Linked DNA regions of Homo sapiens. The protein of the gene in region 2 purifies or fractionates together with the protein of the main gene of each other region. This does not show direct contact. Each region holds a gene or a part of one and is shown on either strand. Other genes may lie near its edges. The genes, in order: TOP3A and LSM11.

Region 1 (3,820 bases), on a different chromosome or scaffold from region 2:
CAATATGTAATTTTATTTTTCTATTTTTGCTTCCATTAACCAAATACTAAAAGAATTCAATATATAACAACAACAACAACAACAAAAAGAATATAAAGTCCCTGTTCTCAAGGAGCCGGGTATCTGCTTGTATGCTTGTACCTAACAAGAAATGAGTCCTGGGCTAAATGGTTTACACCACTCATTAACTCATCTAATCTCTGTGGCAGTCCCAGGAAACATGTCAGATTGGCCTGATGTTAGAGACAAGGAAGTTGAGGCTCCCAATGGCTCAGTGATTTGCTCCAGGACACATGGCTGGTGGGACTCACAGACTGGGAGGGAGAGTACCTGCAGAGGACCTCATCCGTGGCCCATGTGCACATATAAACAAGAACACTCTATTTATGGAGTTCCAAAGTAGAGAAAGTCAGCAGCAGCAGCAGCACTTACCAGCCTTACACACGTGGATAATCTCAAACCCGATGTTTTCGCCTTCTCTATCACAGTCAGTCCAGATCACCAGAGCCTGGCACTGGCGAGTCTCTCGTTCCAAAGTTTTCTTAAGTTCGCAGTGGAATAAGAGTGGTGAGAACAGAATTGCACAACAGTGACTTGACATCTCTAAGCTAAGGGGATCTGACTGAAGGTTAATGCTGCTCTTGGAGTGTGACAACTTGGCAAGGGAAAGAGAACAGAGAAAACTGCTCTCATTGGTGCTAATCATGATACAACCCCTTAGAACCATAAACGAGTTTCTAGAATAGAGGGTTTAATATAACTTCCCCAATATGACAAAACCTGAAATTCAGCTCTAACACACACACACGCGCGCGCGCGCGCGCGCACGCACACTTCGAGAGGTTCTGATTATGACCTAGTTAAAAAAAACGAAGCCGGCTGGGCGTGGTGGCTCACGCCTGTAATCCCAGCACTTTGGGAGGCCGAGGTGGGTGGATCACGAGGTCAGGAGATCGAGACCATCCTGGTTAACACGGTGAAACCCTGTCTCTACTAAAAATACAAAAAATTAGCCGGGCATGGTGGCAGGCACCTGTAGTCCCAGCTACTCGGGAAGCTGAGGCAGGAGAATGGCATGAACCCGGGAGGCGCAGCTTGCAGTGAGTCGAGATCGCACCACTGCAGTCCAGCCTGGGTGACAGAGCAAGACTCCATCTCAAAACAAAACAAAACAAAACAAAACAAAATGAATCCCAATTGAATTTCATCCAAAGTTTTATCAGTTCTCAATAAATTAACTGGCCAGGCTCGGTGGCTCACACCTGTAATCCCAAAACTTTAGGAGGCTGAGGCGGGTGGATCACGTGAGGTCAGGAGTTCGAGACCAGCCTGGCCAACATGGTGAAACCCCATCTCTGTTAAAAATGCACAAATTAGCCGGGTGTGGTGGCAGGCGCCTGTAATCTCAGCTACTTGAGAGGCTAAGGCAAGAGAATCGCTTGAACCTGGAGGCAGAGGTTGCAGTGAGCTGAGATTGCACCATCATACTCCAGCCTGGGGGACAAGAGCGAGACTTCGTCTCAAAAAATAAATAAATAAATAAATAAAAATTAAAAATAAATTAACTATACATGCCCTGACTGCTTGACAACTGGCAATTTACTGTCAAACAGGCATTTATACTTTGTAGCCTCTTTCATCTAACAAGGGGTGAGATGGGGGCTACGCGCTAATAATTTACAATACTTAGGATTATTTTTTGATAGGGTCTCACTTTCTCACCAGGCTGGAGTGTGGTGGTGTGATTACGGCTCACTGCAGCCTCAACCTCCTGCCTCCTGGGATCAAGTAATCCTCCTTCCTCAGCCTTACTAGTAGCTGGGACTATAGGCATACATCACCATGCCTGGTTAAATTTTTTTTTTTTTTTGAGAGATAGGGTCTCACTATGTTGCCCAGGCTGGTCTCAAATTCCTGGAGTTCATGTGATCCTGCCTTGGCCCCACAAATTGCTGGGATTACAGGCATAAACCACCATGTCCAGCCTTTATTCCTAGGATTTAAACAACTACCATTCATAAAAAAAGTTTACTTCAGTCCCTTGGCCACTTAGCCACATTTATACAATGGGTGGGAACCAGCTTTTTAAATCATGGTAGTGACTTTGGTGGAAAACCTTATCTCCAAATGCCAATGCATTAAAAACAAAGAAATCACTCTGTTTGACTCTGTGGTTTGACTCAGTGCCATATGTCTTCCAAAAGACCCTACCTTGATGTCTACAAAATTCTCTGGGCAGTACTTTTCAATTTCTGCTTCAAAGAGGACAAGAGGGTTGCAGCTCTGCCTAGAAAAGAAATGAAAACAGAGTCCCAACTCAGTACATGACAGAGAGCCCTCCAATCTAATGACAGCAAACTGTTCCAATGGGTTCATGGTGTATCCCCAAAAGAAAAGGTCCCGGTGAATTGAAAGTAAGGCTATGACCCTCTGCATGACACACTGTCCACTTCTCCAAGAGTGTGAACAGGACTGATAAGATGGCATTCTGGAGCCCTTTCACAGGTAAATGCAATCCAATGGCTGCATGAAAAAGGTCTGGCAATTTTGAGGAACACCAAAAGTGACTGTTTAAAGATTTAATAAAAATTCACAATGGATCAGATAATCCTAGGTCATCTTAGTATTATAAATTACTGCTGGGCGTGGTAGCTCACGCCTGTAATCCCAGCACGTTGGGAGGCCAAGGTGGGTGGATCACGAGGTCAGGAGATCGAGACTAGCCTGGCTAACACGGTGAAACCCCGTCTCTACTAAAAATACGAAAAATTAGCCAAGCGTGGTGGCAGGCACCTGTAGTCCCAGCTACTCGGGAGTCTGAGGCAGGAGAATCGCTTGAACCCGGGAGGTGGAGGTTACAATGAGTCAAGATTGTGCCACTGCACTCCAGCCTAGGCGACAGAATAAAACTCCGTCTCAAAAAATAAATAAAATAAATAAATAAATAAATAAATTACCAAGGCACAGTGGCTCACGCCTGTAATCCTAGCACTTTGGGAGGCAAAAGAAGGCAAACCCTGCTTTGTTTAAGACCAGCCTGGGCAACAGGGTGAAACTCCATCTCTACTAAAATAGAAAAAATTAGCTGGGTGTAGTGGCACATGGCTGTAAGGCCAGTTACTTGGGAAACTGAGGCATGAGAATCGCTTGAACCCAGGAGGCGGAGGTTGCAGTGAGACGAGATTGCGCCACTGCACTCCAGCCTGGGTAACGCAGCGAGACCCTGACTCAAAAAAAAAAAAAAAAAAAAACCGGGCATGGTGGCTCACGGTCTGTAATCCCAGCACTTCAGGAGGCTGAGGTGGGCAGACCACCTGAGGTCAGGAGTTCGAGACCAGCCTGGTCAACATGGTGAAACCCTGTCTCTACTAAAAATACAAAAACTAGCCAGGTGTGGTGGCACGTGCCTATAGTCCCAGCTACTCGGGAGGGTGAGGCAGGAGAATCACTCGAACCCAGGAGGCAGAGGTTGCTGTGAGCCGAGATCACACCACTGCACTCCAGCCTGGGAGACAGAGTCTCACTCTGAAACTTTGTCTCCAACAAAAAAAAAAAAAAAAAAAAAAAAAAAAAAAAAAAATTACCCAGTAAGATCAACATGCCTCAAAATTCCTGTGAAATTTCACAACTTACTATAATCTGAAAGTCCTTCCCTTGAGAATTGTACTGACCATTTTCGAAACTGCATCTGGAAATCATGAGCCAGTAAATGTCCAGAAACTGAAGTCATTACCATGGTAACATTCTGAATGATGACAAAATTCAAAATTCAGTTAGTCTTTTTGCAGTTATTATTCTGCCAAATCATTAAAATGAGAGG
Region 2 (3,820 bases):
AATTTCAGCTTTTATTATGAAGGATTCTCAGAGCGTGGGAGGAAAGATGAATTTTATTTTTATTATTTCATGTTAACTCAGCTCTCACAATATGCTGGCTATGGTATATAAAACCTCCCAAAAGAAAGCCGTACACATTCTTTTTTCCTGAGACAGGGTCTCACTGTCACCCAGGCTGGAGTGCAGTGGCACAATCACAGCTCACTCCAGCCTTGACCTCCCTGGCTCAAGCGATCCCCCTAGCTCAACCCACTGAGTAGCTGGGACTACAGGCACGCACTACGCACCCCCAATCTCTCTCTCTTTCTCGTGCGTACACAGTCTCACTCTTTCCCAAGTTTGCAACGCAAAATTCTGTAGAAAGTTTATTTTTGGTCAGGTCTTAGAAGTCTGGATATATAGAGTATTTGGCATTGACAGTAGACAAATGAAAAATCTCTCCTGCTTTGTTTCTAGTGACATAAAGGAGAACAACAGTCCTGCACTTCAGTTTGGATAACTAAATTGGTTCCTCCTGAAGCCACCTTATCCCTCTGTCATGGATTGGCTTATAAATGATGGCTGTGATAAATTAATAAAAGATTCTTAGAAGAAAATGACTTAGCAGACTAGCAGGAGTTTATGTCAGATTAACGGTGTGAGAATAACTCGGAGTTGGAAGCGACACGAAGCAGTGACTTTGGAAAAGACCATGAGAATTCTGGTCTGACCATCATCATTTACCTCTCTTCTAGCAGTATTTTAAAGTCCTTTGTACATTTGCTAGCTAAGGGTGTGTATGGGTGTGTGGGTGTGTGTGTGTGTGTGTGCGCGCGTGCGCGCGCGTGTATATGTGTTATAGGCCATATTAAATCAAGCATTCAAGCATTGTAAACAATTTTCAGGTCATTATAACTAGTTGTGTGAACCTGATGAATAACTTTTTCTTTAAGTTCCAAATTTCCTCATTCATAAAATGAGGTTAAGATAGTTAACTTGTAGATTTATTTCAGGACTAAGTCCCAATAACTCAATTTCTTAGAAACTGATCACATGCTTGCATTATTTCTTTTCCTACACATACATATATACTGCCCCCTGCCCTATGATGTATGTTTATACAAAGAGTGGAAAGACTATTTTTTTCTAACTTGGAAAAAAACAGGGACATTACTTCTTTCCCACACCTCCAAAAATAGAAAGGGCAAGCAGGTATCTTAGCAACAGTCTCTTACTCTAATTAAATAGATGGCAAATTCAGGTCTTTCAATTGGTCTTTCTCAAACGTGTACCTTTAATTTTTTTCTTCCAAAGATTTAATAAGGTGTAATTCCAGGAAGCATTGCTCTCCTTGTATCCTTGTGTGATCAAAAGTACGACACTAGCACCACCTATCAGAGCAAACCGCCAAGGCAAAAATGAGCTCCCCATTCTGAATCAGAGTGCACATTCTCTTTCCAGCCGTCTCTGTGGCAAGCTCCAAATGGATATGAGTCAGGTTTCTATGACCAAATATGACAAAAAAGCATATGCCTTATCTTTGGAGAAAGTTACTCTTCCAATCCCCTTCTCTATTGCCACATCCTTCCAGATCCAGGTCATTTTCAGCTCCACTCTTCCTTCTCCTGCTACATGTAAATTATACCATCACAGCCTGATTTTAAAATAACTGTTCTCAATCATGCCCTTCTTTAAAGACCTAAAACTTGCCTCTTACAGTAACTCTTGTTTTCCTTAGAAAGAAATATTTAATAGGAATGTAGGAACAGAAGCCACGTCTGCGTCTCAGGTGGCGGCAAAACAAGATGGTGGATCCCCGTGCCATGACCCCCAGATGCAGGGCTTATATGCTACAGGGAAAGGGTGATTCAGAAGGGATGTGTAGGACAATTGAAGTAAGATAACGTCAAGGTTGTTCTCATGTAAGGACAGGAATTACAGTAAGTACATGCTCTTACACAAGAAACAACAGATAAATTGGAAATCTTAGAGGCCTTCCCAGAACTGGGTTTAATCAGAAGTCAACATGGTGGACTGGCATTCAAGATGGAGTTGCTTTAGCCTCCACAACTACCTATTCAAAGATTTAAGGACAAAACTGTATCTACATATATATCTCCAAATATACAAAGTTATTAGCTCATTAGGGCAAAGGCAGCTCCCCAGATTCCATAACCTATTAAGGGCCCAGAGAAATGAAACCACAAACTGTAACAGTCACCTTATGAGTCTGCAATGGAAAAATATTTTCTCTTTTCTCTGAAAATAGTTTTAGTTGCCATTCTATAGAAGGGTGCCATGACAGATTGAAAGTACAATGTTTGAATCAGTGACCCGGCAAAGGCACATCAGTGTCTTCCCTATTGTGATGCTATGTCAAACTGGCCTAAACACACACACACACACACACACACACACACACACAGCAGTGTGGTGCAGAAATCATCTGAGACTATTCCTTAGTTGCACTGGAGACAGCTGACTGGAAACAGCTGCAATGAGCTGAGAAAAGTGACAAGGCTGAATTTTAAGCTTGGCCTTTTCTGAAGCCTAAGTACCGCTGTTCTCGGTTTTATGTAAGTCATACTCATGCCCTTTTGGCAACCTCTGTGTAACAGAGATGCTGTTCAAATTTGAGAGTTCATTTTACTGCTGTACACAGGGCTCAGATGTTCTTGATTTTGCCTATTTTCTTGCTCTTTATTTGCAGGAAGTGAAGTCAAAGTTATCCAAAGAATATCACTTTATTAAAATGAAAACATCAAGACACCATATTGTGGGAAATTATTTCAGCAATCAAAGTAAACTACAACAACAGGACTCAAACAAATTTTCAATCATGGTATCACGTCAGAGGCCCAATAAATCAGGTTTGTTTTGAAATCCTTCTCAGCAGGATGTGTGCGAGTAAAAGGACTGTGTAGGCTCCCTGCAGGAAAACTGAATTTGGAACTGGAGACAAGCCATTCACCTAGACAATGGTCTAGGAGCCAAACCCTGCATGTCATATGCATTTTGGATTGACCACACACACTTGTTCACACCGGCACAGGCTGCACACCAACACACCTGTAGCTAAAACAAAGTAATGATAACACTTTTTCTTACAGCTTTATAATGTCAAGACGTGAGCTTGAACACACCAGTTCATTTCACAGTGACAGATATACCTAGAAAAAGCTTGCTTGAAGCACAATTATAAACCAGAACCACCGTGGGCTAGGTATGGTGCTGCGATACTAAGGAGAAATATAGACACTAGAATTATGTGGAAAAGAGGATAATGCTCTTTAGTCTTGTCTTACCATCTCTATAGGCATGTCAATATTAAAAAGGAGGAAAAGCAATTGCATTCCACTTGCAAGTACAGCTTGTGTGTGAGTTCTTTGTTGGTATCAGTGATGGCTTAGGCTTAATGATGACGAAAAACCTTTCCTCCTATGCTTTTTTTCTTCTTTAGTATTCCCAGTATTGCAACAGCCTCCTATACTTTTATTATTACTTTTTTTTGAGACCTCGTATCACCTCTGTAGAGGTCTCTATGATGTCCCTATGATCTCGGCTCACTGCAGCTTCCACTTACAGGGTTCAAGCGATTCTCGTGCCTCATCCTCCTGAACAGCTGGAACTAGAGGCAGATGCTGCCATGCCCAACTAATTTTTGTATTTTTAGTAGAGACAGGGTTTCACCACGTTGGCCAGGCTGGTCTTGAACTCCTGGCCTCAAGTGTTCTGCCCGCCTCGGCCTCCCAAAGTGCTGGGATTACAGGTGTGAGCCACTGTGCCTGGCTACTTTTAAAATTTTATTACTGCAAGGAAAAGAATACAACTGCTCCACAAG

Evidence for each region.
Region 1: the proteins of LSM11 (region 2) and TOP3A fractionate together in Homo sapiens (co-fractionation; one large-scale study listed by BioGRID). This does not show direct contact.

Annotation. Positions count from the first base shown.
Region 1 is NC_000017.11:18,304,680-18,308,499, forward strand, and holds part of TOP3A (DNA topoisomerase 3-alpha), read right to left. Parts: intron 3,746-3,820; coding exon 3,672-3,745; exon of another isoform or gene 3,634-3,671; intron 2,817-3,633; exon of another isoform or gene 2,794-2,816; intron 2,288-2,793; coding exon 2,212-2,287; intron 542-2,211; coding exon 433-541; intron 1-432. UniProt on the Homo sapiens protein: Releases the supercoiling and torsional tension of DNA introduced during the DNA replication and transcription by transiently cleaving and rejoining one strand of the DNA duplex.
Region 2 is NC_000005.10:157,746,578-157,750,397, reverse strand, and holds part of LSM11 (U7 snRNA-associated Sm-like protein LSm11), read right to left. Parts: intron 1-3,820. UniProt on the Homo sapiens protein: Component of the U7 snRNP complex that is involved in the histone 3'-end pre-mRNA processing. Increases U7 snRNA levels but not histone 3'-end pre-mRNA processing activity, when overexpressed. Required for cell cycle progression from G1 to S phases.